Regions from separate parts of the Homo sapiens genome. Here region 2 is linked to region 1. The links come from fine-mapping of genetic effects on gene expression. A gene starts in region 1. The other region holds a variant in brackets. All regions are shown on one strand. Distances are between the middles of the regions. Region 1 holds the start of PALS2 (protein associated with LIN7 2, MAGUK p55 family member). Region 2 holds the start of LOC107986777 (a long non-coding RNA gene).

Evidence for each region. PIP is the estimated chance that this variant, and not a neighbour inherited with it, causes the effect. A credible set is the group of variants that fine-mapping cannot tell apart.
Region 2: its variant is the best candidate, but not a certain one, in a credible set for the expression of PALS2 in whole blood (INTERVAL, PIP 0.62).

What each region holds. Positions count from the first base shown.
Region 1 is chr7:24,564,468-24,579,588 of GRCh38, forward strand. PALS2 (protein associated with LIN7 2, MAGUK p55 family member) reads left to right here and starts at 8,985. Exons shown (of 12, transcript NM_001303037.2): 1 at 8,985-9,126. RefSeq lists enhancers at 8,134-8,203, 8,224-8,323, 9,189-9,688, 9,634-9,683, 9,734-9,853 and 1 more and a silencer at 8,464-9,533.
Region 2 is chr7:24,444,742-24,459,862 of GRCh38, forward strand. It overlaps LOC107986777 (a long non-coding RNA gene), which reads right to left and starts at 397. Exons shown (of 4, transcript XR_001745132.2): 1 at 318-397. RefSeq lists an enhancer at 11,417-11,466. The variant C/A (reference allele first, on the strand shown) is at 7,682.

The sequences.
Region 1 (15,121 bases):
ACTTATTATTTAATTTTCAATTTTAATTATGGTATCTCTTTTCCAAAAAAATTCATCTAGTCACAGTTTTTAGTCCTTCAATTATAGTTTCTATCTTGATATAATGGTGTATTTCTCTTTTAGATTTAAATCTTTAGTTCAACTGGAATTTATTTTCTGAATGGTAATTTTAACACGTTTTGCTAATTATCTTCACACTATTTATTTAGTGATCCAAACTTTTTCTACCAATTAAAAATAATCACTTTTGCATTCCTAAATTTCCATATACACATGGGTCTATTTCATGACTACTTTATTTCATTAATCTATTCTTTCTCTAGTACTCTACATTTAAATTGCTTTGGCCTTATATTCCAATTTTTGGTATGGTACATTTTTGTTTCAATTGTGAATGTGATATTTTCTTTTTCAGTCTAGTTTTCTATCTAGCTATCATATATACAAAAAAACCAACTGCATTTTATAAATTTTGATTAGATCTACCAAATCTTTCTTTTTATTATTTATTATTTATTTTAGTTGATTATCTTGGGTCTTCTAGAGAGACAATTTCATCATCAGTAAATAATGATAACTTTATCTCTCCCTTCCAATATTAATACCATATCTCTTACTTATCTCTTTTCTTTCTTATCTTATTGTACTGGCTAGACCTTCCAGATCAAGGCTTAGCAATAGTAGATAAAATGGAAACTTTGTCCTTTTTGGGAGGAAAGATAATTTAATTAAGAGCATTCTTAGCTTATAATTATGCACCAAAGTAAATTAGCAAATGACTATTTGCTGTCCTACAACTACACTTTTGTGAAAATAATAATAGTAATTACACTCTTCTCTGAAAAAGCAACTATATCAGGCATTTGATAGGTTTAATTAATAATTCTTAAAACACCCTGCAAGGTAGGCCTATTATACTCATTTTGCATTTGAGAAAAGAAAGATTCTTATATACTGAAAAACATTCCTAAGGTTACTCAGCTCATACGTGGTAAATCTAGTAGAACTTAGAGTTATCTGATTCTAAACTCTTCTTTTGTACCGTATTACTTGCACTATATAAATACTATTATGATTTAATTCTGATACATACAAATGGATCTGTCTCATTGGTCAATTGGTATAGGGTTGCAATGATATACTTAATATATCTTAGGTATTCAACTTGTGAGAATTATAATACTGACTTTGAATGACAGAAATTATAATTATTACTCTTAATTTAAAAATAGAATTAATCAAATAAATATTAAGTACCTACAATATGTCAGTGTCTTCATAATTATTTACCTAACTATATCATTTAATAATATACAGGTTGAGCATCCCTAATCTGAAAATCTGAAACTTCCTCAATGCCAACATGATGCTACAAGTGAAAAATTCCACATATAAGTACTTAACACAAATGTTATTTTATGCATAAAATTATTTTAAATATCATATAAAATTACCTCAGACTATGTGTATAAGGTGTATGTGAAACATAAATAAATTTCATGTTCAGACTTGGGTCCCATCCCCAAGATATCTCATTACGTATTTGCAAATATTCCCAAATCCCAAAAAATCTGAAATCTGAAACACTTTTGGTCCCAAGCATTTCAGATAATGGATCGTCAACTTGTATTGATTAGACTGTGACTTAGCATTTCATAAAGGTATAGCTTCTGCCCCAAATAAATCATCTATAAGTCAGAACTCTATTGGTGACAAGTGATGGAAACTCAACTCAAATTATCTTAAATTTAAAAAGGTCTCATGAATTTATGTAACCAGAAAAGTCTAGAATTAAGGCTGGCCTCAGGCATGACTAAATCTTCCCTTTTTTGAGATTCTCAAAGTGTTGATTTGAAAAGAGAAAAAAAAAACAAATTATCTTTCTTCCTACTGCAGTACAGAAAAATCCAAAATTTTCTTTATTTAGGTAACATGTCTACTTCTTGCACTAATCCCTATGGCTGAAGGGATGGGGCACTCTTATTGGCCAGGCCTGGGTCACATGGCCACTCTTGTAATTTAAGAATATGGGGAGGATATGGTGATTAGTAGTCCCACCAGAATCTAATGCAAAATAGATAGCCTTTCCACAAATGCTACATTGTTAAAATACACACATACAGTAAGTCTGTAGATCGTGGTGGTGAATCTGAGTTAAATAACATGCTACAGAGAACCTCTAATTGTAGTAACTCGTACTATAATTCATTCCAGTTGAATTGACCTGAAAGTTACAAAGCACTCTGTGTATGAAGTGTGGGAATGAGCAGGAGTTTTGCAGCAGAGCTTCTTTAAACACTTCCTGGTTCTGAAGCCTGAGCCATTAACTCCTCTTCACTTGTTTTCTCATCTGAAAAATGGGAGTAATAGTAATGATCCCCATGGGATGCTCCATATGAAGGTTATACACCAGTGTCTGCCACACAGGCATGAGCTCAATAGATAGTTGTCATTCGCTATTATTACCAAAGCAGGATTTTTTAAAAAGACTTGGTCTTTCATATTTATAAACAGCTGATATTTTAAGGAAAAACTAAATGCCCTGTACTTCCTAGCATGAAGATGGCATTGCTTTAAAATGGGCCATTAACTTCCCAGATTGTTAACAGCCAAAACAGCTTGCCATGGCTGCCCCGACTCATACACATACACCCCGACTTCCATCATTGCTTCCACGTCCCTTATCCTATCCATCTTTCATTCATTTATTTACCAAAAATGTCTTAAGAGCCTACTATGCATCTTAATGACTTGCTCTTACCCTCACGACTTCTCCTCAGTCCTTTGGAGGAGCATCGGCCTCACAGTTTGACCCTTTGTTTTTATGTTTAATCACCATTGACACCCTTTTTGCCTGTCATGCCAGAAGATTCTTCCAGAAGACCTCCACTGCCCTCCAGGACTTCGTGCCTGTCTGTGTTTTCAATGGGGAAAGGTACACACTATACTGACACTATATATTTTTACAAATTTTTAAGAAAGGTTTTTCCTGTTTTCCTATGTCTTTTTAATCTTCTTTTTGATACTTGAGTAGAAGGATTTTTTTTTCAGTTCATATATATAATGGGAGAGGTAGAATTTAGAGGCCGATTTTAAATGAGTATCTAAAAGGGTTAATTACATATAGATGCTGGCTCCTGGTGAGATAAAGTCAAGCTCAATTAAGGTCACTGCTTGAAATCTGATTGTCTTTCTAAGAGCTTTTCATCTGTAACTTGCATATTCTGGAACAAGTGTTCAATTGTAATTAGCAACATTTTTCACTTAATTTTATTTAATTTTAGAAGTCTACCAACTAACAGGTTTATCTGTTTCAATAAATGAGCAGCTACTATGTGCAGTACTATGCCAAGTGCTACAGGCATTCCTGTACACATCACCCTGGATTTTACCTGCAAGAAAGAAGGGGATGGGGCTGAGTGGCGGTAAAAAGAATGCAAAGATAAATATTTGAAAACATAAATGATGCTTTTATGAAGCAGAATAGGAAAGGAGCCATAAGATGCAATTAAAGTGCTACAGGAGTTCAAAGGAGAGCAATTACACTAGTCCCTTCTTATCCAAGAGGGCATCCATTCCAAGCCCCCCAGTGAATACCTGAAACCATGGATAGTACTGCACTGTACATATTTTATATATATATATATATATATATATATATGTACTATGGTTTGTAGACATACATACCTATGATAAAGTTTTTAATTTATACATTAGGCACGTTAAGAGATTAACAATAACTAATAATAAAATAGAACAATTATAACAATATACCTTCATAAAAGTTACGTGAACATAGTGTCTCTCTTTCTCAAAATATCTTATCATACTGTACTGAGGAAAACTGAAACCTTGGAAAGTGAAACCATGAATAAGGGGGGACTGGGGGACTACTGTACCTCTGTTTGAGGTGAGGCAGAAAGGGTTTCATGGAAAAGGAGGGTGTGAGATGAGCACACATGCTTGGATTTTGGCCAGCAGAGATGGCAGAAGGCAAAAACAGGGGTAGAAACATAAAGATACAAGATATGACTAACTAGAATATCCAAACAGGGAAGCTTTGACTGTCATTGTGAATGACCTTGTAAATGGGGTCCCGTAGGCAGTAAGGAGACAGGGATAAAATGACTGGCACCTGGCAGTCAGGGCAAGGAGGCCCTGAGGCAGGGAGATGAGTTAGGAGACTCTGTAGGACTAAAGCAAATAAACAAGAGAATCCATTCCTATAATTTTGAGAAAGTGGGCTGCAAGGGATTTGAGTATGTGTTTGTTCAGGAGATGGTAAAAGGAGGTAAAGGAAAGGAAGGTGCCAGAAAAACCAGCAGGAGCAACCCCGTGAATAGCTTATCTAGATGGAAATTTTCAACAGCGAGTTGAAAATATGCCTCAAGGGAGAATAGATACAGATGTGGAAGCATTGGTGCTAGAGTCCTAAGGATCCCTGGGATTCTCAAGATAAACAGTACTATCTGCTCTTTTTAAGTTTCTCCTCAAAAATTTATTTCATTCTTAGTGGAACATTTTTCTTTAGGAAGTAGGAGGAGATAACACAGCAAAGTAAGGGTCAGAGATGGAACAGTCAGAGAGGTCGAAAGAGCTCCCAGGTGGTATGGTATCAGAGAAGTTAAAGGAAAAGAGAGGTTTAGAGAGTGAGAGTACGAGAGATTAACCTCCTCAAACACTGCAGAGAAGTTCAATGGCATGAACACTAAGCAAAGACCTTCCCCACTAATTCTGTCATATACTATTAAGACACCTGGCATAGCACTTATTATGTAATATTTTGCTTATTATTCTTCGCCATTAGGTAGGGACTACTTGATATTGTTAATTTTTTTATTTTCATTATGCTTCACTAGTAAATGAGTGACTGAATGGATGAACACATGAATGAAAATGTTAATTGTGATGGAAATAGTAGTTTCAGCAGAGAAGTGGGTGTGGAAGCCCAATTCCAATGCCTAAAATAAACAAATAATGGTAAGAAAAGTCAAGGAGATATGCTGAGATATATAGTTTTCTTTTTTAAGGAAAAACCAAACAACCCCAAAACTCAAGTTCTTATAATGTTTGGCTTTAATTGTGATGATTAAAAAAAAAAAAAGAACTGCCATCGTATCAGGAAATGTTTTTTCAGACAGCTAGTTTAGAGGAGAAAGTTCTGCTAAGACATTTCTGTTTGAGACAGTTGACCCAGTGGGACTTTTGGAAAGATTTAGATTATAAGAAAAGCCTCTGACAAATATCTATGAAAGCAAGATTAAAACAATAATGTACACAATCAACTGAGGTCCAGCGGTTTGTAAACCAGTGCCAGTCGGGATGCTCAGAGCTGGGAACGGTGATCTTCAGGCAGCCAGGTGAGACTAATCTGGAGAAGCTTTAGGAAGGAGATAAATTTAAGCTGTTTTGAAAGGGGACTATTCTAGTCAATTGGCAAAGAGTCTTAAAGCACAGGATTAGGAATTTTAATTTGATTACTCGAGGTAATTTGGAGCTACCCCACTGTTGTGAAGATTTGGTATAAATGTTGTTTGGAAGATGATTCATTTCCATAGTTCTTAACTCTGGCTGCGTATTAGAGTTATCTGGAGAGCTCTGAAAAAATCCTGGCACCCAGGCTGTGCTCCAGAGCAATTAAGTCTGGGATGGCATCAAAGCATCAGTGCTTTGTTTTGTTTCTTAAAGTTCTCTGGGTGATTTCAATAAAGAGCCAAAAATTAAGAAGCACTGCTCTGAGTATAGGATAAATTGCAAGGAAGCAAGAGAGAGGCTAGAATTAGAAAGGTTAGCAAGGAGGCTGGAAATTGGAATCTGACCTAGCTTTGTGAGCAGAGATAAAAGGAGTGAAGCTAAATAAAGTATTCTGAAGGAAAACTTGGTTGGACTTTGTGATGCATGCCAGTTGCATTTTTAAATAAAGCTATCCTCCAGGAGTGTCACTGCTTTTACTATGATGGATTAGTTGAAAAACAAGTACACAGGATTTGCTTTTGCTAAAATTCGGGGCTATTAGCAAAATTCTCAATTTCTGTAGGAGCAAAGCAGGTCAGAAGAGAAAAGAAAATGTAATCACATTAAAAGTGTATGTTGTTTACATTTGAAGGAGGAAACAAAATTGAGTGATGGATGCTCCTGAATTAAGAATCAAAATTCAAATTTTAAATTGAATTACCGTTGGGAGATACTGGGCTGTGGTAAAATTATGATCCCTTTAGAGTAACCTTGAAGGAAATGAAAAGTCAGACTATTAAGGACACTGAAGAGAAAGATCCACCATCATTCTCAATCATATCATTCCCCTTTCTTGGAATGAAGAATTTGTAACCGGTATGGGAAATGGATGGTGGTGTCTCAGTATGATGACCTCTCAGAAAGCTGAGTTGGGAACCAATGATGGGAGTTCCAATGTTTAACTGAGAACACTTTAAATTTATCCTGGCATGTCCCACCTTTAAAGTTTAGAGGAAGGGCAGAATGTTATAAAATGGGAATATCATTTATAAAAGGAAATAGTGTTTCCTTTTATAACTGTATATGAGTATTTGATACAATACTCATCTGACACTGAGAGAGGAACTTCACCGGCAAGAGCTTTCTGAAGGGGAGCAATCAAAGACAGTTATTGGAGCAAAATCATTTTTCTGACTCTAAGAATGAAGCTGAGTCTTACGGCAGTGATAAGCCTCCATCTGATAGCTGCTGTCATTACTTAGAGCACAGACTTGGAACTGCAAATGAAAGATAATTGTTCCTGTATTCCTGCTCCCAAATGCTGGGTCTCTGGTAGATGCAGAGATAAAGCAGTTGGCCAGGAGTGGTGCCAGCTTTAAGTCAGGTAGGTCTGCATGTAATTTGAGGGGCAGAGCCTACCCCAAACCCTCCCTCCCTAAAACTTCCTCAGTTAACATCATTCTACTTGCAGGGAGCAGGGGTAGAGTAGGTTAGGACATTGTTTCCAGAAGACCCTTGAGGAAATAAAAGTGCACTATTAAGGATCACTAACATATCTGGAAATGACATTCATACCCTACCTCCCACCCCAACCCCAGAGAAGCTCAGGGCAAGTAACTAAGTGGCTGGGTCCAAGGGGATGTGTTAAGGTTAAGAGTCAGAAGGGAAAAGAGTTCACAAGCCTGGGTAGGGTACAGCAGGGAGGACCCATGGGTGTCCTGTGAGAAGCAAGTGGGCCTGGGGCAGCAAGAAGGACCTGAAAGGTCTTGCTGACACCCCGAGAAGACAAACCCCATCCTTCCGCTTTGTCTCTGCCTTGGGCTCCGAGCCCACTCCACTTCATTTCATCCAGCCATCCTGACTACAGGGGGCCCAAAGCTACTCTGTGCCCTGGGCACGTTTGAGTCTCCTTAAATGCTTCCAATTACCTTTGCCTGGGTTTGTGGTTCCAGGAAAGAAGGTTCTAAATTAACACTGTACAAGGCCCCCCTGCATGTTGGTTTGCAAAATTAATGATCCTAATGGAAAAGTAAATTAATCTTTGATGCTTGGTTGAGGATAAACACAAAAATCACTGTTTTGGACACTGGACCTTCTTAATACATCTCATCAATAGTATTTTCTCTCTCCCTTCCATGCCTGCCACATTCACAAAGAGAGGAGACAATACAACTTATAACTTCATCTCTGAATCCAAAGGGCCATGATGCACGCATTTATTCTGCAAACACTTATTAATGGTCTGGTTTGTGCAAGGTGCCCAAGAGAAGCCAGGAAAGGCTGCACAGAGGAGGCCACCTCATAACACTCCTCACACGTAAAGTTTGACTTGCACTTTCTACGTTCATGGTTTGAAAAGATTGCAGTAAGCATTTTGTAAAATGTAAATTACATTCTTCAATTTTAGGAAGAACACAATAGTTTTTCCAAAAGCCGCCTGTCACAGGTCTGAGGGTTCACAGAGCTCTTTTAAGGGGATCGGAAGTTCTCTGGCTGCCTTGCTATGTTTTTCTAGCCAGAAGTCTCTGCTGCAGTGCATTGCTCAGTTCCTTTCAACTGAAAAATTAAATCTGCACTTCTGTCAAAATGTGTCATCTACACATCCGGACACTCATCACAGTTCACCAAGCTCTACGCAGAGTCCAGGCTGAAAGGATGGCATGCCCTCCCCAACCCCACCCTTTTGAGGTCTGGGAAGCCCAGGTGCTGGGGAGGAGCTGAACAACTGTGTCCAGGGAGTGTCTGGCAAAGCCGACCCAGGGAGTTCCACGGGAGCCTCGGTGCTATGAAAAGAGCCAGTGTCCATGCATTTCCTCGGGTGTGAATCACACTGCCCGGTCGGGCCTTTGGGAAAAAATTAATGAAGGACACAGTCAGCGCCGTAGAACCTGCCAAATACACATCAGATCCAGTGGAGTCTGTGAAGGGGGAGGGGGAGATTTTTCCAGAGGCTTTTCTTCTCGTTCCATTTCTCTTTTGTGCCCCACGACTGGGTTCTTGAATGTAAAACTCTCAGAAAGGTCAGGGCGGAGCCTGTTTTATGCCCCGAGGAGTATCTTGCCCACCCGTAAATGCTGACAGACAGCTGCGACTTCGGCCCAGGAGACCCGGCGGGGACTGGGTCCGACCAGCCCTCTCTCGCGGGCGCAGGTCCGGGACCCCTGAAGCGAGCCGGCCGGGCGCAGAGCGCAGTCAGTCTGGGCGCTCAGAAGCTGGGAGGGGGCTCCACCTGGGCGCCCAGCCGCGGCGGGAGGGGCGGGGCCCGGCTTTCCGGAGGCGGTGGCACCTCCTCGCGCCCGAGCGCGCGCTCCCCGACGTCCGGCGCACGCGCGAGGCCGGCTGGGAGCGCGCCCAAGCGGCGGCGGCGGCGGCGGCTGGAGGAGGAGGAGGAGGAGGAGGAGGAGGAGGAGGGCGGCTGAGGCGCGGCTGGCTGCGCGCGCGGAGGCAGCGGCGGGGGCGACCGGAGCTGGGGCAGAGTGGGGAGCGAGGGAGGGGGAGGAGAGAGAGGGAGGCGGAGGGCAGTGAGAGACGCATTTCCAGTTCTCAACTACGAGCCACGAGTTTGCAGATGGGGCTGCTCGGCGGCGCCTGTGGCTGAGGGAGAGCAGCGGCGGCGGGGAGCGACCGGGAGCGGCGGCAGCGGCGGCGCGGAGGCGGCTGAGGTGCGAGCCGGTGAGTTAACTGGACCCCCACGCCGCTCGGGTAACGGTCGCGCCGCGCGCCGGGCCGGCCGGGGGCGCCCTGTTGCTCGGCGCGGCGCGCCACGCGGGGACCCTGGCCCGCCCCGCCCCCCTCGGCACCTGGGCTTCGGCGGGCGCGGGGAAGAGGGACCGGCAGGCGGCGGCGGCGGCGCCGCGGTCGGGGAGGCTGCTGGCCGCCCCCAGCCCGGCCCGCGCGGAAGGGGCGCTCGGCCGGGCTCCTGCCTCTCTGGCTGCGGGCGGCTGGGCGGGCCGGAGCTCGGCAACGTGTCTGGCCCATGCTGCTTGCCGCCGCTCCCCACGCGCTCCCCGGCGCGGCCCCGACTGGGGCTAGGGCCGCAGACGCGCGGGGCCCCTTCGGGCGCGGGGCTTGGGTGCCTACACCTCTGCGGCGGGAGTCGCGGTGGAGCCTGAATGGAGAGCCGGCCTGGGGGCGGCGTTGCTGTGACTGACACCTCCGGGGTCTGTCCCGAGAGGGGGTGATTCCGCCGGCTCCCGGTTCTCTCCCGAGCTCGGAGTTGGTAGGGGAGGAGGCTTTCTCCAACTACCGCCGCTACTTCCGAGGTACGAGACTCCAGTTGTTTGGCCAAAGTGGCTGTGGGCCGAGCACAGGCTGCCGCGGGGGCGTTCGCTGCTGAGATCGTGCTCGCGGATTCTCGGTACGTTTGTCTGAAACCAAATAGGTGCTGGGGCTTTTTTATTTTGGCTGGGTGGAGGGTCAGCAGGGGAGTCGATTGAGGTATCCGACCGTGTGGTGACAGGATGTGGATTGGTTGGTAGATGTTTTTTTGCAGAAGGACTTTTTAACACTTTACTGGGAGTTTATTCTCAATCCTACCAGTTTCTGGGATTGCAGCTCGAGATTACATTTGTTAAACTTCCATCAGTTGGGTGTGCATCTGTGTAGGGGGTGGGGGTGAAGCGAGGGAGAGAATTGAAGACTGCCGGGGAAGCTCAGAAAATTCTCCGCATTACTTATAAACAGCCGGGTAAGGTCAGGCTAGCCACGTTTTATTCTTTCCTACGCCTTTGGAGAGTGTTGGAATTTTACTTTGTGCTTCAAGTATATTACAAGTGGTCTTGTAGTGTAGCTGAGAACGTTTGGGGTGCGTTAAAATGCGTTTCAATTGGAGTATGATTTAGCAGCCATTTCTTCCCGTGAAATTTTGCAAATCATTTGTAAACTTATGTTGGTCGAATATACCAGGCGAAGTAACATTTTTAGTAATGCGGTATATAGTTTCCGTATATAGGTATAGCAACGGACCTCAAGTAATATTGCTTATTGTAGGCATCTACTGTGCAATGATAGGGTAGTGGGTAGTAGGCCTGATTATAGTTATGTCTTCTGAGGCCTTGTTAACAGTAAACAAAGAACTTTTGTGGGTTGTGTCATTTTGAGGTCATTTGTACCTTAAATCTATCATATATTTAAATAGGTGTTTAAATGCGTGTTTGCACGATGTGTTACTCTTTAAGGTCCATGTTTCCTTCATTCTGGACTACGGTTACATAATACACAAATGGTAACACTTTTAATTGCTCAATTTTGTCCTATGGAGACTGCACACCATCTTTATGAAAGAGGTGTGTATGTGTCCTTACTGATGCCACCGAATTCTTGACATCTGGAATGTCAAAATGAATTATTTTGCATTCTAGGTTAAATCAACACTGGAAAAATTAAGGTGTTTAAGCAAGTCTAGTAGCTCTATATAAGACAGAATCTTTTTTTTTCTTTAGGCCAACTGTTGGATTTTTAAAAATGAATCATATTTTTAAACATTTGAGGGAGCAGTTTGCTTCTGAGTCTCATTTTAGGCTGAAATTGTTCCAGAGCACTACATAGCCTGCTTCTCTCTTTCTCTCCCCACTCCCCCTCTTTTTAGCTTGAGATAACCAAGAAGACATAACTGTGACTCTATGTGTTATCTTTTTAAAAAGTTGTTTTAAAATTGAAGTTGCTTGTTTGAATATTTACTATCCCTTTACATGCTTTACTACTTAATAATGGATTAGCAGAATAAAACAGATATTTTAATTAAATGTCTTTCATATTTTTGACATCTGAGCTTTGTAAAAATGGAGTAGCATCATATTATTGCTGAGAGAGTTACAAATAATACAGGATTAGTGCTAGTCAAAGGCTAATTGTAAAAAAACAGCCAGAAAATAAAATTAAAAGAGGTAAGAGGACGCATTTATACTTTTGACATCACTCTAATATAAATTACCTATTGCTAGGTGACTTTTGAAAAAGAGTATCTTGTAAAATTCACATTAGGTATATAATAGTTAATAATTTTTCCTTCCAGAGTGATTCACTTGATGAGTGACTAGATTTTTTTTTTTTAAATCAGAACTCTACTTCAGGTAAGTATAGTTAACCATGTAAGTGATGTGCTGATGTTTATTTCAGGAAGAATGAACACTTACCCATTTGATAAATACTGAACTGTTTGGGAATATGTCAGTTATTCCTTAAAACTTAGGCGGAGAAAAATTATGCTAGTTTTGTTTTAACTGTAGGTTCTTTAGAAAAGTAGTCTTCACATTTATAAATATAAGAGCAGATAAGCACAAGAGATCTCTTTCCTGATATGGTGCTAGTATTGAATTAAAGATTTTATTTTTTTGTTGTAGGGACCAGTTTTGTTTAGTCTTCCTGTTCAGTCTCACAGAAGCTGCAATGATTTTCCTCCTTTTCTGTTACTTGTATCTGACCACTGGGGGGAGACTTTACAATTGGGCTTGACCATATTCCTTCTTTACATACATTGGCTGCTAATCCTGGGCACTTTGTCAAACTGCTGGGTAGTGTGCTGAGGAGGATGCACTCTGAAGCAAGTCTCAATCAAGGTGTTTAATGACTTTTCTTTCTTTAACTCACAGCATGCTTACAAAGTATCATTCTTTATAGACTGTGTTATTAACAGTCTACTGTTAAGTGGTCTAAGTATGCCTCTAACATAATGAAAGATAAGATTCCTGAATACATTATAGCTTTCAAAGATCCGACTTTACTTGCATTAATCTTAGAAGCAGTGTAGGTTTAATTGCTTGCTTAGAGTACACAGATATTAGTTGTCTGGAAGGATCTGGAAAGATCATCACTCTTCTGTGAAGTGTATCTATATCCAAACCCTTTAAACAAATTGGTCTCCTCTTATAAAAAGCTTTTGGAGGAGAAGATATTGAAGCATCCCATGTAGCTAATTTTAGTGTTCATTTCACCGCAGAGGGGAAGTTCTTCCTTTATCATAGTCATATAGATAAGATTAAAGCCCACAACTTTGTTAACCATTAAGCTGTGACCATTATTACCAGGTGTAATAAAGTCAAAAGCCTGGTTTCTACTTTTTCTTTTCTGACAGTATTTAACCTTGTTAATGTCCAATTCAATAATAATGAACTCAGTAAACAGAGGCTGCTACGTTTATAGTAGTTTAGAAAGAACTTAAGTTTTATGACCTTCCTTAATTATGATAGACTAATTCAAAGACCTTTCTATAATCTTTATCATAGTAAGTATATTCACAGAGTAATGAACAGAACAAAATTAGTTTCTATTTTTCCTTCATCCTAGGTTATTTTCCTTCTTTCCTTTAAGATGACTTTGCTTTCATCCGAAAATTCTTTTTTCCTTTTTTCCTTTTTTTTTTTTTTTAATATAGTGTACTAGAAGAGATACTTTCTGCTTAGGAATATATTCATCTCTGGCTAACTTTAGGATTGTGTTAAGTACTTGGGAATGGAAGTTTCTAAAAGCCTATCTGTCAGAGTTATCACTGATACAAGGCAAAATGAGAATTAAAGACAATATAATGAATATTTCATAAAGCTCAAGTTATTTTCAGATCCTTTCTACTGCTTGCTAGTTTTGTACATGATTTAATCCCTCCTTCACCAATTTACATCTTTTCCTCTTAAATCTATCATTTCTTTACCCTCTTCCTCCACTTTTTGCTATATTTCATCTACATTGCCCTTCATTTTGTTCCTCATCAATGCCATGGCTTGCTCCTAACTTAGGGCTTTTGCACTATGTTCACTCTGTTGGGAACTCTTCCTAAATCATTACATGAGTGACTACTTTTCATCATTTCATGTTGTAGTTCAAATATCATCTTTTCAGACAAGCATTGCTACCTAACCATCCTTCCAGAATGACACTAGCCTCATCCCCCTCAATCCCATTACCTTTTTTACTTAAAAATTTCTTCAAACCATTTATCAGTATCTGAAATTATGTTTTTATATTATTTTATAATCTCCATACTCACTAGAATATAAGCCCCGTGATATCAATGATCTTGTCTCTTTTTGTTTTTGTTTTTGAGATAGAATCTCACTCGGTCACCCCAGGCTGGAGTGCAGTGGTGTGTGTGATCACGGCTCACTGCAGCCTGGAACTCCTAGGCTCAAGTGATCCTCCCACCTCAGCCTCCTGGTAGCTAGGACTATAGGCAACAACTACCATGCCGAGCTAATTAAAAAAAAAAAATTCTGTAGAAATGGAGTCTTGCTGTGTGTGTTGCCCAGGCTGCTCTCAAACTCCTGATCTCAAGGGATTCTCTCGCCTCAGTGCCTCAAAGCACTGGGATCATAAGCATGAACCACCACACCCTGCTGATCTTGTCTCTTTTGATTAACACTATATTTCAAGGACTTAGACCTGTTCCTGGCACATAGCTGTCATTAAATAAATCATCCTTTTAAAAAATCTGAGGTCATGTTCTTTCTGAGGTTTCGGTGTTCAAATGCTCCTTTATAAAATGATAGTAGTATGGTAAACAGGCCTCTTTTGGCCATAAGTAATAGAAATCCATTCTAGTTGTTATAAAGGGAATTTATCGTTCAAATGCAGCCAATGTCCAGTGGAATGCAAGGACTGGGACTCCAGTGCCTGCAGGGCACATCATATCGTTTCTCTCTTCTTCTCTGTGCGTTTGCTTCATTCCTTCTCTTGCTGCAGAGGACCACTTCTAGTCCTCTTAGTGGAAAATATGGCCACCAGTAGCTTCTGAGTTTTCATGATACCAGCCTGGGAAACTGGAGAAAGGTTCATCTAGTTCTTCCCTGTTCAATAAACTATATCTCATTATTAGAACTTGGTTGTACTTGCTGTAACCACATGTAATGGGATTAAACAGACAATCCAAGTAGGTGCCCCTGTGATAATTAATGTTCATACTTATTCATCTGCTGCAAAACACTCGTCTCTCCTCTTTTTAAATTTGATCTTGAAATCTGAAGTATCTGAAAAGCACTCTTCCTGGAGATATAGAAAAGAAATGTGATATCTTTCATGGGCATGATTTGCAGTTTGATTGAGGAAGATAAAATATATACAAAAAGGAAGTAAAATAAAAATAGCATGATAATGGAGGAACTGGTAGAAATATTTGCAATTTGTATGATAAATAAGAGTCTAACTTCCTTTATATAAAGTACCTACTAACCAATTAGGAAAAGACCAACCATCAAGTGGGCAAAGATCATGAACAGAGTAATTCTCAGAAAAGGAAATGCAAGTGTTTTGTAAGCATCTGTAAAGGTATTCAACCTCACACATAATACAAATATTATAAATAAAAACTATGAGATACTGTTTCACCTACTGACAGATGGAAAATGTTTGATAATACTTTTGAAGAGGCTATTAGTTAACAGGGGCTTTCACATTGTTGGTGGAAACACAAATCAAAATCTGATGTGGTTGAAATTTCTGAAGAGCATTAAGGTAAATAGAAAAGGCTGGAAATATGCCTTAATTGATACAGATGTTTGTGAAAGGGTAAAAAGTTAATGCACAACTTATTTGAACACTAACTTGCATTGCTTTGTTTTTGGCTAAAGTCATAAACAAACTGAAACAGCAGGCTTCCTCCCCCAAAAAGAGATACCTTTTGAGTGGTATTTAGTTACCCCTTTCCATCTTCTCCATTCCCCTTTCTTCTACCCCAGTA
Region 2 (15,121 bases), 120 kb before region 1:
GCATTTCCATTTCCAATTTAGCCTTATAGTCCTGAAAACATTTCTCCTTCCAAAGATTTTTGGTATTTCATCTGCTACTAAACAACATGCTGCCGGATAATTAAAGAGCCACATTTGGGGTGTTTTCAAGAATCTCCGTGTGTTCCTGGGATGGTTCCACAGAACTTCAGATTACATCGTCTGTTATACATTGTTAAAGGGAATTGTTGAAATCAGAGACGTCCATTGAGCCCAGAAAGAACCAGAGGAGCAACAATAATAGCTGGATGCTATAAATGCCTCAGTATTTGAACTCATCTTTCAATCATTGCACTCACCGTAGGTAGAATATTCAGCAAAAGGACGTTTGCCACAGAACCATCATCTGTTTCTCACTCTGCAGTGTCTGACAGTGAGTGAGATCGGCTCACTTTGATACTGAATGTGTTGGTTGGAGATAATTAATTCCCAGCCTGTGTGAGTTAATCATTGTTTCCCCACTTTTCTCAGCTTTAATCAGACTCCCATGAGCCTTCCACTGAGCATGCTCACAAGAGCATTCACGTGCCCCTTGTTATTGCTGTCAAATCCCGTATGCGAAAGGAATCTACTTTACAGAACGACAGCACAGCATTCTTCACTTAACAGCAACTAGATTCTACTATTCAATTTATGGACTAAAGTTGACAGATATAGCCAATTGGCCATTGATAATAGTACAACATACAATAAAATTATATTTTAAGACAGTGCCAACTTGAGTACCTTTCTTCCATATAAACAATTCACAAGGTCCCTCATGGAGGAGGAACACTGTTTTCTGATTATCCTGTAATTGGTACAAAATATTTCACTAGGCCAGGTGCGGTGGCTCACACCTGCAGTCCCAGCACTTTGGGAGGCCAAGGCAGGTGGATCACTTGAGGTCAGGAGTTCGAGACCAGCCTGCCCATCATGGCAAAACTCCGTCTCTACTAAAAATACAAAAAAAAAAAAAAATCAGCTGGGTGTGGTGGCACGTGCCTGTAATCCTGGCTACTCAGGAGGCTGAAGCAGGAGAAGCGGCTTGAAACCAGGAGGTGGAGGTTGCAGTGAGCTAAGATTGTGCTACTGCACTCCAGCCTGGGTGACAGAGTGAGACTCTGTCTCAAAAACAAAACAGCAAAAAAAACAAAACAAAAAAAAATTCACTACTGAATTGGAAGTATTGCATTTTCTTTTCTCTCCGTATTCATTTTTTGGTTGTTGTTGTTTGAGACGGAGTCTCGCTCTGTCACCCAGGCTGGAGTGCAGTGGCACAATCTTGGCTCACTGCAACCTCTGCCTCCTGAGTTCCAGTGATTCTCCTGCCTCAACCTCCCAAGTAGCTGGGATTACAGGTGTGCACCACCATGCCCAGCTAATTTTGTATTTTAGTAGAGACGGGGTTTTGCCATGTTGGCCAGGCTGATCTCGATCTCCTGACCTCAGGTGATCCACCCGCCTCAGCCTCCCGAAGTGCTGGGATTACAGGTGTGAGCCACTGCACCTGGCCTAAAATATTAAAAAAAAAAAAAAAAAAAAAAAAGAAGCCTAAGTATTTCTGACTCTTCAATACTAGAACCTAGCAGCTAACCCAGGGAAGGCTACTCAACAAACAGCTATTGAACTAAAATCTTTCCACGTTTGTTCAATTGAAATGGTTGTTTTATCTTTACCCTGACTTTTATCTGCTTGGAATATCCCTCTGGCAATAATGCTGTATTCTGACACACAGTTCTTTTTAAGTACTAAGTTACATTGCTGTTGGAGTTTTAGATTTTGAATATTCCCCGTGTGGGCATTTCAAATGATAGATGGAACACCTATGCCACTAAAAATTTTTAACTACGTGAAAGAAAAATTTCTCTACTTGTTTCTCTTCAACCATAATATTTTTAATCAGTACTGAGATGATAAATTAAACTAAATAGATTGCTCAGTTGATTTTTTGTGTGTTACTGCCGACTTTATTTTTCTTACGATCATTCTGACATTCTTCTTTGGTTAAAAAGAAAGAAAACTCAAAAAGATGTACCCTTTGAATTAAAATTTTGATAAAGATATAGAAAGAAAGAAAAAGAGAAAAGGGGAAATGAAGAGAAGGGAAGGAATTCAAAGATGCTTTGATATAGATATGAAAGATCTTGGCTTGAGCCTTCTGTTCTCTGTAGGGTCCAGACCCTTCCAGACACATTCATTGATCTAGGGGGATAGGGAAGCCTCACAGGCCTGTTGATGTGGCTGCTAAGGAGCCTCCGGAGAACACACTAGTTCTGTTTATTGCTGGCATGCAGAAACATCTGGCACTTCTCAAGGCCAGGTGAAGGGGATAATGGGATCCTGGGGTAAGGAGAGGTGTGAAGAGCCTATTTAGAGAAAACTCAACCTAGGAAAGAAGACACTAGGTACTTTGACCTTTAAGTAGCCACTGAAGTGGGGTGGGGACTCCTAATAACAAGACAATAACTATACCAGATCTACCCAGCCTCACCTTCAGACCCATGTCTGCATCTGCAGAGAAGAAAGCTGTGAGTAGAAACAAAAAGAGCTGCTTCTCTAAACTGTCAGGGGCATTAGGCACAGATGCCCCATTGTCAGGGGGTCCCCCACATTCCTGAAGGTCGCTGTGTGACCTTGGCACTTGGCCACTGTCAGAGTGGACACTTGTGTTCAGCAAAGCAATCCAAAGCAATGGCACATTCACTGTGGCTGGTGGGACACTGTGGAGTGACCAGCCAAGTATAGTGGCAACAGGCAGAGAGGACGGCCATGCCTGGGGGATGGGAAGAAGAGTAGTGAGGTTCAGCAGCATCACATGGTCACCAGCGCAATAGTACACATGAGGAACACCTTCTGGGAACACCCAGTTGTTGTCAGGTGGACTGGAGATGCTGTGAGAGCAAGCAGAGGCACTGGGCCAGCAAAAGGTCGGTCTGAGTGTGTACTGGTCTGTCCCATTTATCCTCCAGGGGTGACTGAGGCCTGGAGACACTTGGGATAGACAGAGAAAAAGGAATCCTGAGGAGATGTCCTTATCAAATGAAGTAGGTAAAGAAATTTTTGTTTAAAACATCAGGAAAACTGGCCAGGTGCACTGGCTCATGCCTGTAATCCCAGCCCTTTGGGAAACCAAGAGGAGCAGATTGCCTGAGCTCAAGAGTTTGAGACCAGTCTGAGCAACATGGAGAAAGCCCGTTTCTACCAAAAAATACAAAACATAGCCAGGTTTAGTGGTGCATGCCTGTGATCCGAACCACATAGGAGGCTGAGGTGCAAGGATTACCTGAGCGGGAGAAGTCAGGGCTGTAGTGAGCTGTGATTGTACCACTGCACTCCAGCCTGGGAGACTAAGTGAGGCCTTGTCTTAAAAAAAAAAAAAAAAAAAAAGAAGTCGGGAAAATCAGTGTAAAGCATTGAAAATCACACATGTATGAGGCACCCACGTGTGCCAGTCTCTCTGCTGGGTGCCTTCCGGGCCTGCCTTATGTGCTCTCAGCCAGCTCTGTGAAAGGGCATCACGTGATTAAACAAAAGCTCAAGGTGTTTGAAAATAACATTTCTAAAATCACAAAACCAGTGATAGTGGATATTCAATTCATGTCTTTCTGACTCAATGCCTTTATCCTTTCCATGGTTTCTGAACAGAAAACCATGCAAAATAATAACAGTTGATAAATCTTTGTGAAGGGTAGGCAGGAGTCCAATGTGCTATTCTTACAACTCTTAAGTAAATATGATTTTTTTTTTCTGAAATAAAAAAGAAGAGGCCGGGTGTGGTGGCTCACACCTGTAATCCCAGCACTTTGGGAGGCTGAGGCAGGTGGATCACCTGAGGTAAGGAGTTTGAGACCAGCCTGGCCAACATGGTGAAACCCCATCTTTACTAAAAATACCAAAAAAAATTTAGCCCGGCACGGTGGGGCATGCCTGTATTCCCAAGTACTTGGTACACTGAGGGTTAATAATTGCTTGAACCCACAAGGCGGAGGTTGCAGTGAGCGGAGATCATGCCACTGCACTCTAGCCTGGGCAATAGAGCGAGACTCTGTCTCAAGAAAAAAAGAAAAGAAGAAAAGGAAGAGGAAGAAAAATTAAAATCATGCAAACCAAAATTTGAAAAGTGGTAGGGATCTACCGTATGATCTGTCGAGATCACCAAGAGATTGTCTGCCCTGGGCCTCCCTTTCAGAGGAATCGCTGCTTCCGTGCCCCTTGGCTTCATTCTCATAAATCACCTGGATTGGGTGGAATTCTAGGTGGGCCCTGTTTTCCTGTCCTAGGGCTGCTGTAACAACATATCACAAACTGAGCGGCTTCAACAACAGAAATTTCTTCTCTCACAGTTCTGGAGGCTAGAAATCTGAAATCAAGACATCAGTGGGGCTGTGCTCCCTCCAGATGCTCTAAGGAGAATCCCACCTTGCTTCTTTTAGTTTCCAGGGGTTGCCAGCATTCTTGGTGTTCCATGGCTCATGGCAGCAGCCCATCTCTGCCTCCGTCTTCACACGGCCTTCTTCCCTGCGTCTCTCTCTGCCCAAATTTCCCCTTCTTGTAAAGACACCCCCAATCCAGTATGACCTCATCTTAACTCAATCACATCCACAAAAATCCTATTCCCAAACAAAGTCACTTTCACACGTCCCACGTGGACATGAATTTAGGGGTGACACTATTCAACTCAGTACTGTCCTCCAAGATCCCCACCTTCTGGTGTACATGTCCCAAATAATCCCCTCTCCTCAAGTGTAAGCAGCACCTGCAAATATGACGGGTTAGTCACTTCTTTTTTCTTCTTTCTCTCCTTTTTTTTTTCTTTTGAGAGGGAGTCTTGCTCTGTCACCCAGGCTGGAGTGCAGTTGGCGCCACCTGGCTCCACCTCCCAGGTTCAAGCGATTCTCGTGCCTCAGCCTCATGAGTGACTGGGATTACAGGCACACCACCAAACCCAGCTACATTTTTTTTGTATTTTTAGTAGAGATGGGGTTTCACCATGTTGGCCAGGCTGGTCTCAAACTCCTGACCTTAAGTGATCCGCCTGCCTTGGCCTCCCAAAGAGGGTTAGTCACTTCTGGGATTCCATGATATTACAGAAGACTCCATCGCAGCAGGCTGGAGAGAGCTTTAAGTGATGGTTTTGAGGAAGGGCCTGATTAAGAGCTTTTTCCTGATGGCTTTGAGGAAGCACATGGCCATGCTGTGGGAGAGCCACATGGTTAGGACCTGAGAGTGGTCTCAAAGAGCTCAGAGCAACCCCCAGCTAACAGTCAGCAAGAAAATGGGACCTCTGTCCTATAACCACAAGGAGTTGAATGACCTCTGCTGACAACCAGAGTTCTGAATGGGCTTGAAAATGGATTGAGCACCTCCAGACAAGAAGTCAGCCTGCTGAGACCTGAGTGGGGAACCCAGTGAAGCCATACCCAGATTCCCCACCCATAGGATGAGCTGATAATAAATGCGTATCTTTTCACTGCTAAATTTGTGGTAATTTGTCATGTAGCAATAGAAAACTAATGCGTCATCCAGTGTCTTTTTCCCTTTAGATTGGTCTGCAGATGGCTCAAACAAATTATAAAGATGTGAAATTTGGAGGAGAGACAATAGGGCTAGAAAACTTTGCATCTGATTTAGATTTGTCTTCCCATTTGGAGCGGCTCTGAATGGTTCCTGGCTTTATCATGACTTGGTAGTTATTGTGTCCCATATATCTTCCCCAACCATTTGCCCCACCCCACTTAAGGAAATCAAAACTGGTTTCTGTTGTTTGCAATCAAAAGCACCTAATTAATTCAAAACTATAGAGTGTAAATGTTGTGGAAGTGTATATTAAGTTACCTATATGATAGTGTGAGACTAAAAAAAATGAAAATCATAAACTTTAAAGAAAGATTTCAGCTAAGAAAATTAGTACTATTATGTGGAGGTGATAAATGAGTATTGTATTATATTATATTATATTATAGTTACCAGGCTGTGTACTTTACATATATAAGCTCATTTAATCCTTACAAAGACCTCATCGGATAGGCAGTTGCTACCTTTAATCTCGTTTCTCATTTACAGATTTAACAAGTGATCAAGCTGGGATCTTAACCCAGGTCTGTCTGACTCTAGGGCCTGCCTTTTAAATCACTAAGCAATATTGCTTCCAGCAAAATAATTAGTGCCATATATTGTCCTCAAGCCGTAACCTTGGGTTTAAGAGTCTCTTAGTCTACCAAATGAAAGAAGAATAAAAATCGTCTTGTAAATAATGAAATAAAATCCAGGTAAAATTAAACAAATATATTTTCTAACGACGTCAAAAAAAATGAAAGCCATTTGTTTTGGAATAGGATTTATCAGACTCTGCCTGGTTTCCAGGTACCCCTCAGTGTCCCTCCCCACCACGAGTGACACTACTGACCCCTCCACCTGTGTTTCAGTTCGGCTCCGGTTTCTAGGGCCAAGGCTCTCAGCCTGGGCTGTACATTAGACCCACCTGGGGGCTTTTAAAATCCTGGAAGCCACCCAGTTTGTGATACTTACATCAGAATCCCCAGGTGTGGGGCTCAGGCTTTGGTATGTTCTTCTGGTTCTCCGGGTGTTCCCATTTTGCTGTCACAGCTTCGAGAACACTGCTCCAGGATTCACGCAGACCTCGGGCAGAAAGACAGAAAGGCTTCTAACCTAGCCTTTGCTTCTAGTCATATATGCTGTCTGCAATGCAGCTTGACTGGGGACCCCAGGGCACAAGGCTGGACTTCCACTTTTACCTCCAGACCCAGGCTCCGTCTTGTGCATCAGTTCTAGTTACAGAGACCTCCTTCTCATTGAGTCTGAGTTCCCGTTTTAATAACCTGTGCCTCACTCCACTTCCTACAAGTTTGGGGGTTCATCTGTCTTGCTTTGTCTTGTTCTCCCTGAACCAGAGTTCTACCTACAACCTACTAAATGGCCTAGACCCTGCCATTCATGGACAGCTGTTCCTGAAACCACCACCCATTCCTGCATCAACCTTTGCTGGGCTTTGCACACTAAGCACACCTGACCGTTGGTGGTCATTAGCTGCCTGACTACGTCATTGTCCTCCTTGTTCTGGACTTTTCCTAGTCCCCTCCCTGGGCTTGCCCCCAGCTCCCATCCTGTCCCCCACTGTCAGTTTCTCTGCACCTGTCACCACATTGCACTTTGTGGAATCCTCTCACAATCAAGGCGGAGCACTTGCTGAAAGTAAGCAGTCACTCGCTTGTAGAAATTAATACATTTCATCCCAAAACAATTTAGTAGTGTTTGAAAATGCATTGAAGAATATGTGTCATTTACACTGCCTATTACACAACAGATCAATAAGAGAATACCTGTATTTTATATAATTAAATATATGTTCATTCATTCACCTGAAAACAGATTATAAGAAGCAGGAGTGAATGCAAGAAGAACTGTTGGAAGGAAAACTGTATCAGTCCAGATGCATTTGGCATGGACTAATGGGGTTACAGCACAGACAAAAAGAAGTGGGTGGATTCAGAACAAATTCGAGAAGCATAGCTGATACGAGGAAGGGTCAGAGGTATAAGAAAGCTGTTATGGACTGAATGTTTGTATCTCCTCAAAATCTGTATATTGAAATCCTAACCCCCAATGTGATGGTATTAGAAGGTGGAGCCTTTGAGAGGTAATTAGGTCAGGAGAGTAGAGA[C/A]CTCAGGAATGGAATTAGTGCCCTCATAAAAGGGACCCCAGAAATCCCAGTTCTCTTCCCACCACATAAGGATACAAGAAGAAGACTCTCACTGGAAGTGACCACACTGACACGGTGATCTTGGACTTCCAGCTTCCAAAACTGTGAGAAATAAATTTTTGTTGTTTCTTAGCCACTCAGCCTATTGTATTTAGTTATAGTCTAAAACTGAAGTGAAGATGCCAGAACCACTTTATAGATGGGAAGTTAAGCGAATGGTTAAAGGTAACGCCTTCTACTGAGTTAGTGAAGATGGGGGAAGGACAGATTCAGCAGAAGATACCAGGTGATCTGTGGATAAGTTTAAAGTGCCTATTAGGCACCCAATCACTAAATAACCTGTTACACATTCAATATCCTGGGCAATTTACGCGGCAAATAAAAAAGACATAGCATCCCCACACGTTCTCCCCATGTCTGTGTGGGTTTTCTCCAGGTGCTCCAGTTTTCTACTATATGTGCGTGTTAGGTTCATTGACATGTATACATGGTACCAACATGAGAGAGTAAGCGTGTGAGTGGCCCTGCTATGGGTTGGTATCTAGTCCAGGATTGGTTCCCACCGTCAGCTACCCAGATAAGCTCTGGCATCCCGCAATCCTGAACTGGAATAAGCAGGTTGGAAAAGGAATGAGTGAATGAATATAAACTATGGTCAAATAAAAATTAATAAAGGAGATGACAATCATACAGATGCCCAACAATAAATGATGTGTACAAAAGTGCTCAAAAAGGACAACCGATTGGTGATTTTTTTTGAACTTTGTGGTGGCAGGAGGTACTCTTACGATTTTTGCTTTGCAAATATTTATTTCCTGATTTAACTCACCACCACTATGACCACCATCACTTACTAATTCAACAAAAATGGGCAAATAATTTTTACCTTTAAAAACTAATCTTTCTTAAATGTATGTATAGCTCACATGGATTATGTTAGAAGTGTTGGCGTCTTTAGAAGTTTGGTGATGTTTTTAATTCTCGTTTTTATCAATTAACCTATGGTAAAACTGGTTTTGCTATATGCCGTTTCATTTGAAGTCACAGTTTGTAAGAATCTATGTTGTGCAGAACCCCTATCAGCTCCCATGGGGATGGCACCAGGTTCAAGAGGCCAAAGAAGAGACCCAGAGCCAGCAAACAAGACATGGCGTTTCACCGAGGCTTACATACAGAAGACAGAGCCCATTGGCAGCAGGATGGACAGACGTGCCCTATATACAGTCCAGTGGTGAAGGGCTGAGCAGGAGAACTGCAACCACTTGCAAAAGGCATGCAGTTTATGGAACATTTTCACTTAATATCCTCCCCCTGACAACCTCCCTCTGGCAACCTTCATTCAACCCGAAACTCGGAGGCTCGATTCCCCTATATGGCCTATGTTCCATGGGACAGGAAGGGGGCTCAGATGTTCCTCATAAACAAGGAACAAATCTCCAGCTGGCCATTCCCAGTTTCCCTAGCTCAGAACACACATTCAGGTGCATCTGTCATACAGGGTCATCCTCAGGGTACGCTAAAGTTATTGCTCTCAGGTGCATTTACCATACAATCTATAGACAATGTTAAGTGAAAACTTACTGTACTCTGGCTGTGAAACAGTGTTGTCAATACTATTCTATTGTTACTACTTTCAACAACTTGGCAAAAAAACCTTTGATAGTTATTTGGTATTGAACACACACGTCTAACTTGTTGTCCGTGTAATTGCAGGGTCTGTCAGTGGTAACGTGAACAGGAGCTGGGGAGGCATATTTGTGAGAAGCCAAATCTGAGTGCTGTCACATTTCATCCTGTCTGCTGACTAATATCCACGTTTGGGAGGGAAGTTCTCCGAATGTCTTGCTTCTTTTTTCATCCTCAACCGTGACTGTGTTACCCCGCTCTGACCGTGGCATAGCATCCTGACATGAGAGTACTTCCAGCTCTTCAGGGTATTCATATTGCAGAAGTTTTGAGTTTAAACAACTGTGGAAAGTATATTATTGCTAATTTTTGTTGAATTATTATTTTATTTTTAGAGACAGGTTCTTGCTCTGTCACCCAGGCTGGAGTGCAGTGGCACAATCATAGCTCACTGTTAACTTGAACTCCTGGGCCCGAGTGATCCTCCCACCTCAGCCTCTTGAGTAACTAGGACTATGGGTACGCACCACCATGCCCACCTAATTTTGTTTGTTTGTGGAGATGGGGTTTCACTACCCTGTCCAGACTGATCTCAAACTCCTGGCCTCAAGGGACCCTCCTGCCTCGACCTACCAAACTGCTGGGTTAACAGGCATGATCCACCATGACTGGCCTTGAATGATTATTGTAGAAAATTGGGAAATAATTATAATAAAGGAAAAAAAGCATCATTTGTGATACCATCAGGCCAGAGGTAGACACCCTTGATGCTTTGATGCATTTTCCTCAACTCTTTTACATGTGTGCATATATATTTTTTGCTTTTATAAAATTGGGGGTTTCCTGCTTTTTTCACTTAAAGGTGTATCATATGCATTTTCCTGTATCATTACTTTTCTAAAACATGATTGTTATTGACTGCAATTATATGCATATCTCATAATTGTTTAGCTATTGTAGATTATAAGCCTCAAGACAAATTTTAAAAAATAATTTTCTGTTTTTGTTTTGAGATGGAGTCTCGCTCTGTCACCCAGGCAGGAGTGCAGTGGCATGATCTTGGCTCACTGCAACCTCCGCTTCCCAGGTTCAAGTGATTCTTCTGCCTCAGCCTCCTGGGTAGCTGGGACTACAGGCGCACACCACCATGCCTGGCTAATTTTTTGTATTTTTAGTAGAGACAGGGTTTCATCGTATTGTCCAGGCTGGTCTTGAACTCCTGACCTTGTGATCTGCCCACCTCAGACTCCCAAAGTGCTGGGATTACAGGCGTGAGCCACTGCTCCCAGCCAAAATAATGTATTTATAATGATTGTTTATGGGATGGAGTTTACTGCTTTGGAATTAGAGGGACTGAGGTTTAAGTCCCCTCTTATGAGATATTTGACCTAGGCAGAGGACCAATCCTCCCAGCCTCACCTGTAAAATGGAGCTAATTTAAATAACTAGGTTATTGTAAGAATTACATGATATAATCTCTGCACCCAGAAAAAGTACATAGAAAGCTATTACAATTGATTTGTTTTCAGAAAGCTTGGAGCTAGAAACTCGCATACCTATACATAATATAAAAAAAGAATTTTGGAGAGGTCCTACAGTGAAAAACCAAGGATATTTGTTGTGAACCTAGAAAAATGTCCTGGCACAGGGGCATAAAAAGGTTAACTTTTTGCATTTTAGAGTGTCCACAATGCGGTGATGTTTGGCCCTTTCACAAGTTAAAAGGATTGAGTTAAAGGGAGCAATGATCTCTAGAAATAGGGTTTGGTGGAGTCTCTAAAGGGGTGTGTGTGTGTGTGTTCTGTTTTTAAAAACTGGAAACTTCTCTGCTAAATGTTCTGTAAACAAGCTCTGTTGGATTAGCAGAACTTGCAAAAATTATGGTGACTGAAACCAGAACCATTGGTATGCTCTAGCATGCTGTGGTTTTCAACCCTTTCTAAAAGTCTCTTATGCAAAGCAGATTTCAGCAAAGCTGCTCTGGTGGAAGAGGGAGACATGCCCCATGCCCACTCTGCTTTTCCTCAAAATGCCATCCTCTCCCCTCCACGCGGTGACAGGGAACTGAGAGACCTAAGCTCCCAACCCAACGATCCCACTAACTGGCTGCGTGTGATTTTGAATAAGTACTGACCTCCATATTTTCATTTCCCTTGCCCATGAATGAGATGACTAGGCACTAAGGTCCCTTCCACTCTAATAGCCATGATTTTCTGAGTCTTCATATTCGCTTTTCCTGGAGTCCCTCCAGCCTCCCTGAGCTATGAGAACTCCACATTTGGCCTCCAACATTGGCAGAGATTATGCCTTTTCCCTTATCCAAGAGGAGTCAGAATTTTCGTGGTAACTAAATGATACTGTATCTGGTGCTGTAAAAGAGATTATAGGCTGTGACTGTCCAGATTTGCAATGTGGTTTGGGGGAAACTTTAGGAGAAATAAACATTGGGAGCTACAGATAAGGAACCAGTGCTAAGAAGGGAAGGGGCAGGATTTCTGTGAATAATCACAATGTCAATGACATTAAACAAACAACACGCATATATAGTTAACAATCAGAATTAATTATATTTATATCTATGTCTCAGACACTTTTTGCAGTAGCATGAGAACAGTGATCCTCCCTCAATTCTGAGTCAGGATTTAAAATTCCAGAAATCCTTCCACCCCCACCCCACATACACACAGAAATTTCAAATTCAATTGATGTGGGTAGAGCCTAGCTTCCAGTATTTTGGGGATTCTGAAGTCAGCCAAGGTTGAGAATGGATGTATTTAGAGAACTAATGTGCCTGTCTGTTTCTTCATGGAGGCAGACATTTCCACGTGCCCATCAAAAGCAAATAACAAAACTGAAATCCTTTTATCATTTACCTGACTAAATCTCACTTTCAGAGGCTGTCATTACTGTTGCAGTATTACCTAACTCAGGCTTGGCACACAAGAGACAGTTAATATTTATACTGTTTACAAAACCGTTCAATAAGTACTGGGACCGTGGCACACAGAGAAGAATTTGCTGCATCATGATCTCATTTCAATTCCCTGATGGCAGTTCAGCCATCTGTGTGACAAAGTTCAGGGACTTTGGACTATCAAACCTTCAGACTTTGTGAGTCCCAGATCATAGCCCCTTATCTTCAAGAATGTAACTTAAAAAAAAGTTTGGAGGAGCAGGATAATAATGCTCCAGCTGAACTTATTCCCTGGCACCTGGTGACCTTGTTTATTCCAGAAGGATTGGCATCCCCCATTAAACCACTGTGCTTCCAGCAGCTGTCCTTAAATGATTAATGTAAGCAGGCAGATAAACCTTAGGTCATTCCTAAACCAGAGAAGTATCTGCAAATTAATACACAAGCTTAACCTCGTTTTACTGGGGTTGAAGATTTTCTTGAACTGATGTCCATCTGACATCACTGCGGGGCTAAGACTATACTTACTCTAAATCATACTCTGCCAGGGCAGATTCAATCACTCGTTTGCTTAACTCAGTTAACAAGCCCTTATTCCCACAATAGCCCACTTGCCACACAAGTAATACTCCTCAAAAGACTCTTTAAAGTTGACTGGGAAGCAACCTTCTGCTTTCTTCCATGCCACTAAGACCAAAAAAAAAAAACCAAGTGTCACAAATAAAGAATTTCAATGAAGAGACCTAGTAATTGGATTCTGTCTGTCCTGAGTTTTCAATCATACTCCAAAATCTGACTTTTCTAAAATACATAATACCTTCCAATTTTGAAAGAGAGCTCAATAAATAATTTCTTAAAAATATTATCTTTGCCTCAATAATTCCATTCCCAGCGCTTTATAATCTGCCTTCTTTCCTCTCTTCCATAAGGGAAGGAGGAAGGAAGGAAGGAAGGAAGGAAGGAAGGAAGGAAGGAAGGAAGGAAGGAAGGAAAGAAGGAAAGAAGGAAAGAAGGAAACGTGTTACACATATAGATGGGCTTCAAACAATAAAGAGATTGGTTAAGTCAAGTGTACTATACCAACCTGATGAACAGTTATAAAATAATTGTGAACACTATAGAATGACATGAAAATGCTAATGTTTACCAAAAAAGCAAAATACAACACTACATAACAATACATCTTTCTTTCTTTCTTTTGAGACAGAGTCTTGCTCTGTTTCCCAGGCTGGAGTGCAGTGGTGTAATCTTGGCTCACTGCAACCTTCACTTCCTGGGTTCAAACGATTCTCCTTCCTCAACCTCCTGAGTAGCTAGGACTACAGGCGCGCACCACCATGCCCAGCTAATTTTTTTTTTTTTGTATTTTTAGTAGAGACGGAGTTTTACTATGTTGGCCAGGCTGGTCTCGAACTCCTGACCTCGTGATCCACCCACCTCAGCCTCCCAAAGTGCTGTGATTACAGGCGTGAGCCACCATGCTCGGCCCCAACAATACATCTATACTATGCATTGTGGATGTATTTATATGTATATGAACTAGCAAGAAATAGGAAGAATAAAAAGTCGATATTTGGTAGCTGTGGAATTCTGAGAGCTCACTTCCATTTTCAAAATTTCTATTAATGCTGTTACAATAGAGTTAGTGCAATTTTTAAAATCATCTCTTTTTCTGCAACAGTTTAAATGTTTTCATATAAGTATAATCTAACACTAAAGTGTCCTCTAAAGGGTAAAAACTCATTCTATTCTGTGAAGACTTGAAGATTTTTGAAGATTTAATATATATGTATTTAACATTTAATATTTATAACAAGGGTGGAATGTATATATCATTATCCCTTGTTTGATAAATGAAGTCTCAGAGGTGTTGCGACATGAATGGTTTGACCAAGGTTGTATCATTTATCAATGACAAGCAGGAGTGGAAGGAAGAACACCATAAATCCAAGTCTTGAAACTAAATCCAACTCACAATCTCTACTTTGTATTTTTCAAAGAGCCCAGTAAAGTACAACATACTCAGTGAGAACTTGGTGAACACTGATTTTCTTAAGTGCCAGGATTAGTAAAATTATAGAGACTGTTAGCCAGTCTTCTTGACGCCAGCCTCACCTTTTGTCTTGTTCATCATCTACATACAACTGTGAGGTGAATCTTGAAATAGAGCTTTCATCCTCTCACACTCCCATACTCAAGAACCAATAATGGCTGCAAGTTCATTTTTCAGACTCTAGATCCTGGCTTTCAGGGCCATCTATAATACGACTCTATTCCACTTCAGCCAAACTTTTTGGTTAGACCTACCTGGAGGGTACCACCCTCCCTTCCAGTAGAGCCTAGCTCTCTAATACCTCCTGTGTGATGAATAACCTCCTACGAGAATGTTTAAGTTTTACATTTCATTTTCGCATTAATCTAAAAAGAAATAAATGTTTTTTTTAAACCTGGGCTCTTTGGATAACCAGTTAATATTGGGTGTTGACTCTCAATATCAGTGCCTGGATTTATGTCTGCACAGAGGATCACATTGGCATCAGGAAGATACCTTTAGTTGCTACGGGCTGATGTGAAAAGAAAACAGGCAGGAACAGAACACAGTGATGATATGCTAGTGCTTTATGGAGGCCAGATGCCACTGTGCAATGTCTAAGCAATGGGTTCATGGTAGTTGAAATGGAGCAGGGTGGTGGGAGAATTGAGTCATCACACAGCGCTCGCATATCAATCTGCCAAAAGCTTGTGCTGTAGCATTCACCTTTTAATGACATAAACATCAATCTGGTGACTGAAAAACATCATTTGTCAACATAAATTAACCTATTTCAACTGAATATTACTGGTTTTGTAGTTTTACGATT